2 linked regions of the Homo sapiens genome follow. The protein of the gene in region 2 purifies or fractionates together with the protein of the main gene of each other region. This does not show direct contact. Each region holds a gene or a part of one and is shown on either strand. Other genes may lie near its edges.

What was found. Proteins that work in one complex are often made in the same cells at the same time.
Region 1: the proteins of URGCP (region 2) and CUEDC1 purify together in Homo sapiens (co-immunoprecipitation; 2 studies listed by BioGRID and IntAct, with this or other methods). This does not show direct contact.

The regions. Positions count from the first base shown.
Region 1 is NC_000017.11:57,885,813-57,889,565, forward strand, and holds part of CUEDC1 (CUE domain-containing protein 1), read right to left. Parts: intron 68-3,753; 5' UTR 1-67.
Region 2 is NC_000007.14:43,885,997-43,889,749, forward strand, and holds part of URGCP (up-regulator of cell proliferation), read right to left. Parts: intron 1,821-3,753; coding exon 1,794-1,820; intron 1,490-1,793; coding exon 1,419-1,489; intron 1-1,418. Other genes in the region: URGCP-MRPS24 (uncharacterized protein LOC100534592), read right to left, coding at 1,419-1,489. UniProt on the Homo sapiens protein: May be involved in cell cycle progression through the regulation of cyclin D1 expression. May participate in the development of hepatocellular carcinoma (HCC) by promoting hepatocellular growth and survival.

The DNA of each region.
Region 1 (3,753 bases), on a different chromosome or scaffold from region 2:
TGGGGCTGGGCGGCCGGTCATCCACACCCCCGGTGCATCCTGGCACCGGTTTCACGGATGGTCCCACCTGAAACCGAAAGAGATGGAGTCAGGGCCGAGGCTAACAAAACATGAGCTCAGGGTGGCGGCCAAGGGCTACTAAGAAATGAGGGCAGGGAACCGCGACCCCTACCACGGGCAAGGGAGGCTTGCTTCTTCCTCATGCTTTCTCCCCGGCTTCAGTAATGAAATCCCCACAGTTCTTTACTAGCACAGGACAGCCACCAGTTAGCAAGGGATTCCTCCGACCCAGGTGCCATCCTAAGTGCTCTATGTGGGCCAACTCATGACAATACTGTAAGGTATGTGCTAGTATGCCCATGTTGCAGATGGGAAAAGTGAGGTATAGACGCTGAGTTAGTGGAGGAGCCAGGATTTGAATCTGGGACATATGGCCCTCAAGTCACTGGTCTCTACCATTACACATACTGCCAAAGACCCCTGAAGACCTGAGTGAGGCAGGAGGGGCTCTTTAAAGATGTCCTGCCTCTCTGATCTCTAGTCCCTGTTCTCATCTTCCCACATCACTGCCCCAACATCGTGGTCCCACCACCAGGGCAGGAATCTTGTGCAGAGCTCCATCGAACCCCGGGGACAGCAGTGATGAGAAGCGGGACCCTCCAGTGTCACCGGGAGCTTCCAGCCTGAGAGAGGAAACAGGGTTTCATCCTTGCAGAGCCTCGGGCTAATAGGGGAGGCCCAGTTCCCACTCTTGGAAAACTCATGTCAGGCCCTAAAACTCAGTCCATTCCCCTGAGAAGCACCAGCCCAAAAGAGAGATGCAAGGCCATTGTCAACCCCTGGAGTTCATTTTCCTTACCCCAATGTCAGGCCGACATGTTTTATTTATATCACAGACACGTTTGTTCTTATGGAACACTCAGTGTCCTTACATATTTTTAAAAATTCTAGAAGTTTTTTCTCAAAGTTGTCTTGAGAAACCATATACATCATAAATTCTGGTTGTTTTTTTTTTTTTTTTTTTGAGACGGAGTCTCGCTCTGTCACCCAGGCTGGAGTGCAGCGGCACGATCTCGGTTCACTGCAAACTCCGCTTCCCGGGTTCACACCATTCTCCTGCCTCAGCCTCCCGAGTAGCTGGGACTACAGGCGCCCGCCACCACACCCGGCTAATTTTTTTTTGTATTTTTAGTAGAGACAGGGTTTCACCATGTTAGCCAGGATGGTCTCGATCTCCTGACCTCGTGATCTGCCCGCCTCGGCCTCCCAAAGTGCTGGGATTACAGGCGTGAGCCACCGTGCCCGGCCATAAATTCTGTTCTTATCCCCACCAAGCCCAGTTCTCCTGCCCCAGCCAATGTGTGTCCCTCAGCCCCCAGGGTCAGCACAGTGTCCTGACAACATGTATAGGTGGAACTGAAAATCAAGCACAATGAGGGACCTTAATCTGCCACAGAAAACCACCCGGCCCACTCAAACCCAGGCATGTAAATCACTGCCAAGGTTGCATTTCTGTTAGCACAGACCACTGGGAATGGAATGCGCCTAAACACCAACTTCTGACAGTGGCAGCTTTATTTTAAGGGACAATTCCATCAAATAATATCCTTGAGTTTGATGAAACAGGTGCAAACTTGTTTTCACTTTTCTAGGACTTGGAGTCACAATCTTAACAGCTGATACAGAAATTTTTTTTTTTTTTTCGGTCTCACTTTGTCGCCCAGGCTGGAGTACAGTGCTGTGATCTTGGTTCACTGCAACCTCTGCCTCCCAGGTTCAAGCAGTTCTCCTGCCTCAGCCTCTCGAGTAGCTGGGACTACAGGTACACGCCACCACGCCTGGCTTTTTTTTTTTTTTTTTTTTTGTATTTTTAATACAGATGGGGTTTTGCCATGTTGGTCAGGCTGTTCTCAAACTCCTGACGTCAGGTGATCTGCCCACCTTGGTCTCCCAAAGTGCTGGGATTACAGGCATGAGCTTCAATGCTTGGCCAAGATGTTTTTGTGAGTACATCAACCCCTGAGAAAATCTGTTCACACTTTAGTGTGTCTACATCTCGATTTTTTCTTTTCTTTTTCTTTTTCTCTTTTTTTTTTTTTTTTTTTTTTGAGACAGAGTCTGGCTGTAGCCCAGGCCGGAGTGCAGTGGCGTGATCTTGGCTCACCGCAACCTCCACCTTCCAGGTTCAAGCAAGTCTCCCATCTCAGCCTCCTGAGTAGCTGGGACTACAGGCACGTGCCACCACGCTTGGTGCTAATTTTTGTATTTTTAATGGAAATGGGGTTTTACCATGTTGGCCAGGCTGGTCTCAACCTCCTGGCCTCAAGTGATCCACCTGCCTCAGCCTCCCAAAGTGCTGGGATTACAGGCGTGAGCCACTGCGCCCGGCATTATTTTTTCTTTGCATATACCACCATAAATGAATTTATTTTACTAAAATGTAATCAAACCATAAATCCTATGCAACTAGTTTTTTCCACATAATAAGATATTGTGGCCATCTTCCCATGTCAGAATACGTAGGGCTACGCCATCATTTTTAGTGCCTGAGTAGCATTCTGTTGACTGAGTGAAGCATGATTTATAATCCAACTCCCTCTACCCCATCTCTTCCCAGATGAGCAAGTCAGAGCCCAGAGACGCCCAAGCCATTTCACAAGAAGACACAGAGGGGTGACTTCAAATGATCAGTCCAAGAGTTTTGCTGTGAGAAGGAACATAGGAAGGTAGCCAAGTATGACATGGCTTCCCATAGCCGGCTTTAGACACCCCAACACCCCTACACCCACATCTCCACGAACCCACACACATCAGAAGAGTATGCAGCTTCGCCTGGGCTCCACCCTGACAGCTGCCTTTGTCCTGGGCTCTGGGGACCTGCCCTCAAGCCTCTAACACAGACCTCAGGGCCAGGAGGCCCCAGAAGCTGATGCCTTGGGCTACTGTCTGCTGTCCTAGTGTCATCACACACAGGGGTCAGTGACTTGTGTTAAGGCCTTCTGGAGTAAAGCCATCATCTCTCTGCCCCTCCAGTAATTTACTAACAGAGATGGAGGGACCCAGGTCTCACTCTGCCAAAGGCAATCCCTCGGAGAAAGATGACCTGGGCCACCCCCAGGGGAGGAAGAAAGAAGATGGCAAGACCGACATTTTCCCCATTAGCAGCCCTCTGGACAGCTCCCTCGGGTTCTGGGCCTCTCTGAGTGTTGAGAAGCTCCAGAAGCCTTGCACTCTTGCCACTTATAGGGAACACGCACCAGTTCAGACAAGGCCTCCGCACTCCCCAGCTGTGGGACCTCAGACAAGTCTCCCATCCTCTCCGTGGCCCTAAGCCCTCATCTGGATGTATCCCTTAGGGGGTTTCAATGGGAATGAAATAAGATAATCCTCAGCACACTGCCTAGAACGTGGCTATGCTGCATTTGAGTTATCATTGCCCCAGGAGGCTGGTAAAGAGCCAGGAGCAGTGGGTAAATTGGCCAAGCTGCCCTCACAGGGGGGATGGGGTAGGGAGATTCTAGGGGGGTCTTCCCCAGCACCTGGATGTCAATCCCTGGAATTCTTTCAGCCCTCTGTAAGGAAATATTGATCCTCATGGCCCCAGGGGAGGCTGGGCTGGCCTGGGCAACTGGAGACACAGCAGCTCAAGCAGCCGCTTCCATTTGGCCCAAGTGCAAAGCTTTGAAAGCATCCTTGTGGGGACCACAAAATGTAAAGGACTGACAACTCCAGCCCAGCCCCACACCCTGCCTC
Region 2 (3,753 bases):
CAACTGGCCAATAATCCCCATGGTGCCTACCTTCCAGAATTTAAGTTCCATGAAGGGCTTTGAGCCTTTTCATTTACTATTGTTTACAATATCGCAATGCTTACAACAATGTTAGTGCATGGTAAGTACTCAAAAAATATTTGTTTGAATGAATAAAATAGTGATTTTTTCCATAGAGACGGTGTCTCACTATGTTGCGCAGGTTGGTCTCAAACTCCTGGGTTCAAGCGAACCTCTTGCCTTGGCCTCCCAAAGTACTGGGATTACAGGTGTGAGCCACTGTATCCAGCCTAAAATAAAACTTTATTAACCAAAACTTATTTGCATATTTTTGTGGATTTTTGTTTTTGCATAACTCTATTAATATCCAATAGAACACTTTTTTTTTTGGCAGTTAAAACATAGTTTATTTTTTTAGCACATTCATTTTAAGAAGAACCTAATTTATGAAAGATATATCTAAAATGAGTTACTGGCTGGGCACGGTGGCTCACGCCTGTAATCCCAACACTTTGGGAGGCTGAGGCGGGTGGATCACCTGAGGTCAGGAGTTCGAGACCAGCCTGGCCAACATGGTGAAACTCATCTCTACTAAAAATACAAAAAATTAGCCGTGCATGGTGGCGCATGCCTGTAATCTCAGCTACTTGGGAGGCTGAGGCAGCAGAATCACTTGAACCCAGGAGGTGGAAGCTGCAGTGAGCTGAGATCGCGCCACTGCATTCCAGCCTGGGCAATAAAGGCGAAACTTGGTCTCAAAAAATAAAATAAAATATCAAATAAAATAATAAAAGAAAAGAAAATATAAAACAAAATGAGTTAGTAAGAGAGCTAAAGATATCTGGAGTGTGGCCACCATACCTTAAAGGTGAATTTACAAAGGGTGGCGTTACAGCCCCACCCCCAAATCCTCAGAGAAAGAAAAACCAGCCTGTATGGACCATAACCAGGAAGACTACAAGCCCCAGTGTGCTCTGGGACAATCCCAATTTATACCTGTTTTCCCAACATTACATCCCTTTCACTCTCAGAAGTGCCCACTTTAGAAGATAAACTATACAGTCACCTTAACTATGACCTACAATGGCAGTTATGCTAAAATTGGGGTAATGTGTTTCTGTTAAATTGTGTCATAATCACCTGTTTAACTGAATCCTGGGAACACTTACTCCATTTTCTAGAATAAAGTGTTGCCCATAAAAAAAACAAACAAAAAACACTATTTTGAATATATGAGGAATGCTTAAAAGACCCTTAGATGGAATCTTCTTGTAAAAGGAAAAATAAAAGCCTTAAACTTATTTATTTTTGAGATGCACAATCCCAAGTCCAGGAGGGGCTGGAACCCAGAATCCCAAGGGGACAGGAGAAGTACTTCAGCTCCAGAGTGGGCCCACATCCAATTCATCCAACTTTACCTGCAATGGCCACAGCTGTTCGTCTCTCTGATGCTTTTATTTCTGGGGCTACTTCTCCCAAATCTGAATGCCTGAAACAATTTCAGAAGAAAATTATAATTAAAAAAATGGAATACCACTTTCACCTATCAAACTGGCCGCATATAAAATCTCTTGGAGAGCTTTTAAAAACTATAAACCCTGGGTCACACCCCAGATCCATGAAACCAGAATCTCTGGGAGCTGGTCCTGGGTATCACTGCTTTTAAAAGTGCCCTCAATGATTCTGATATGCACCCACAGTTGAGAAACACTGGTCTAGAAAACCAGCACTCTCCAAAACTGCTGGCCAGAGCACAAATACAGTCATTCAGAAAGACAGAAAAATATACATACCCTTTGCCCAGTAATTCCACTTCTATCCTAAGGAAATAATTAAGATTTAGTTACAAAGATGTTGATGCCAGCTTTATATATAATAGCGAAAAACTGATGCCTTTTAAAATCAAAGTGCAATAACGGAATTATGGTCAAATTCTGCAGCCATTAAAAAATACGCTATGGATTTCTTTTGTGGACAAAAAGATGCTGGATGAGATATTAGGGAAAGCTGTTATATTAATTAGTCGGGGGAAAGTCAGGCTACAGAAAAGTATGCACAGTATGATTACAATTTAATAAAATTGTGTATGTTTATCTATAGGTATATATACAGAACTCTAGAAGGATGTTCATCTGAAGTTAACACTGTGGTCTGGAAGGGGTGATCCTGAATTATTTTAAATAGCTATGATAAGTGCAGTCTAATTAAGAATAAACTATTTTAGGCCTGGTGTGGTGGCTCACGCCTGCAATTCCAGCACTTTGGAAGGCTGAGGCGGGCGGATTACTTGAGGTCAGGAGTTCGAGACTGGCCTGGCCAACATGGTGAAACCCTGTCTCTACTAAAAATATAAAAATTAGCCAGGCGTGGTGGCAGGCGCCTGTAATCCCAGCTACTTCGGAGGCTAAGGCAGGAGAATCACTTGAACACAGGAGGCAGAGTTGCAGTGAGCCGAGATCGCACCACTGCACTCCAGCCTGGGTGACAAGAACAAAACTCCATCTCAAAAAAAAAAAAAAAAAGACTAAACTATTTTAGATGTATCATAGAGTGAGCAAATGAGTAAATGTATTGATTCTGCCAGGAGCCAGGGTGCTAACTAACTGCTGAAGAAAGGACATACAAACATAGAATGGAGAGTTACAGCAGAACTTGCAGAGGCGCAATGGAACTGGAGGCACTCGTGTGAACTGTGATTTCTATATGCATGCTTATGTGCATATGTGTTTAAGTGTGTAGATGTAGGTGTGCACACATATCTCTGTGTGTATACGAGTGTACACATGCATCTATTTCCTAACTGTCCACGGAAAGGGCCAAGAAGCAAAGACACTGTTGTGGCAATGGGCATGCCTAGCACCCTTTAATACCTTCCACGCTAAAAGAAACGGACTCCTTGGAGATCCTGAATGATGGCTGGGGCAAGGAAAGAACAGGAGGAGCCTGAGCATCTTATTTCAGAAAGTAAGGAAATGCTCGAAAACATGATGGGCACAGGAGCCAGCCTGAGGAACTCTCACTGGTCAAATCTAGGACAATGTGAGCACAAACATAAACACAGTAACTGATTTAAAACCATTGAAAACCAGCAATTAGTGAGTCCACATGGATAATAAATACATGGGCAGAAAGAGAAGGCTCTCTTGCTCACATCAGAACATGAAATGTGGAGGGGGATGCTGCAGTCAGAATAGTATCATTTTAGAGCAGGGTGCAGTGACTCATGCCTGTAATTCCAGCATCTGGGAGGCCAAAGCAAGGGGATCACTTGAGCCCAGGAGTTCAAGACTAGCCTGGGCAACATGGCAAAACCTCATCTCAACAAAAAATAATGAGCCACTGTACCCTATAGCCAGTAATTTTAAAAATTATAACACCAGCCAATCTGTCAACTCGGGCTCCAGCCCACTTCTAAGCCTTGCTAAGTTTCCTGTCTGTGTATCAGGCGGAGTCGGACCAAGACGGCAGAGAACAGCACTTCCAACGGCCCTACTCAGGGGCAAGGGAGCTCTCTGCAGTGCAGTTTTTGAAAATTACTAATATCACCATATATGTTTTTCTGATTCCAAAAATAAGACACATGTAAAATACAAGAAAGTATCATAAAAATGCTTTCCTGTCATATGTTTGAAAATTATACCCTATGTTAATCTGTCCTCTCCTCCTCTTAATCTACTCCCATTGCTCTAGCCCATTCTGTTAACAGATAGAAGAGTAGTGCTTTCGCACGCCCCAATTTGCTCCCTGATGACT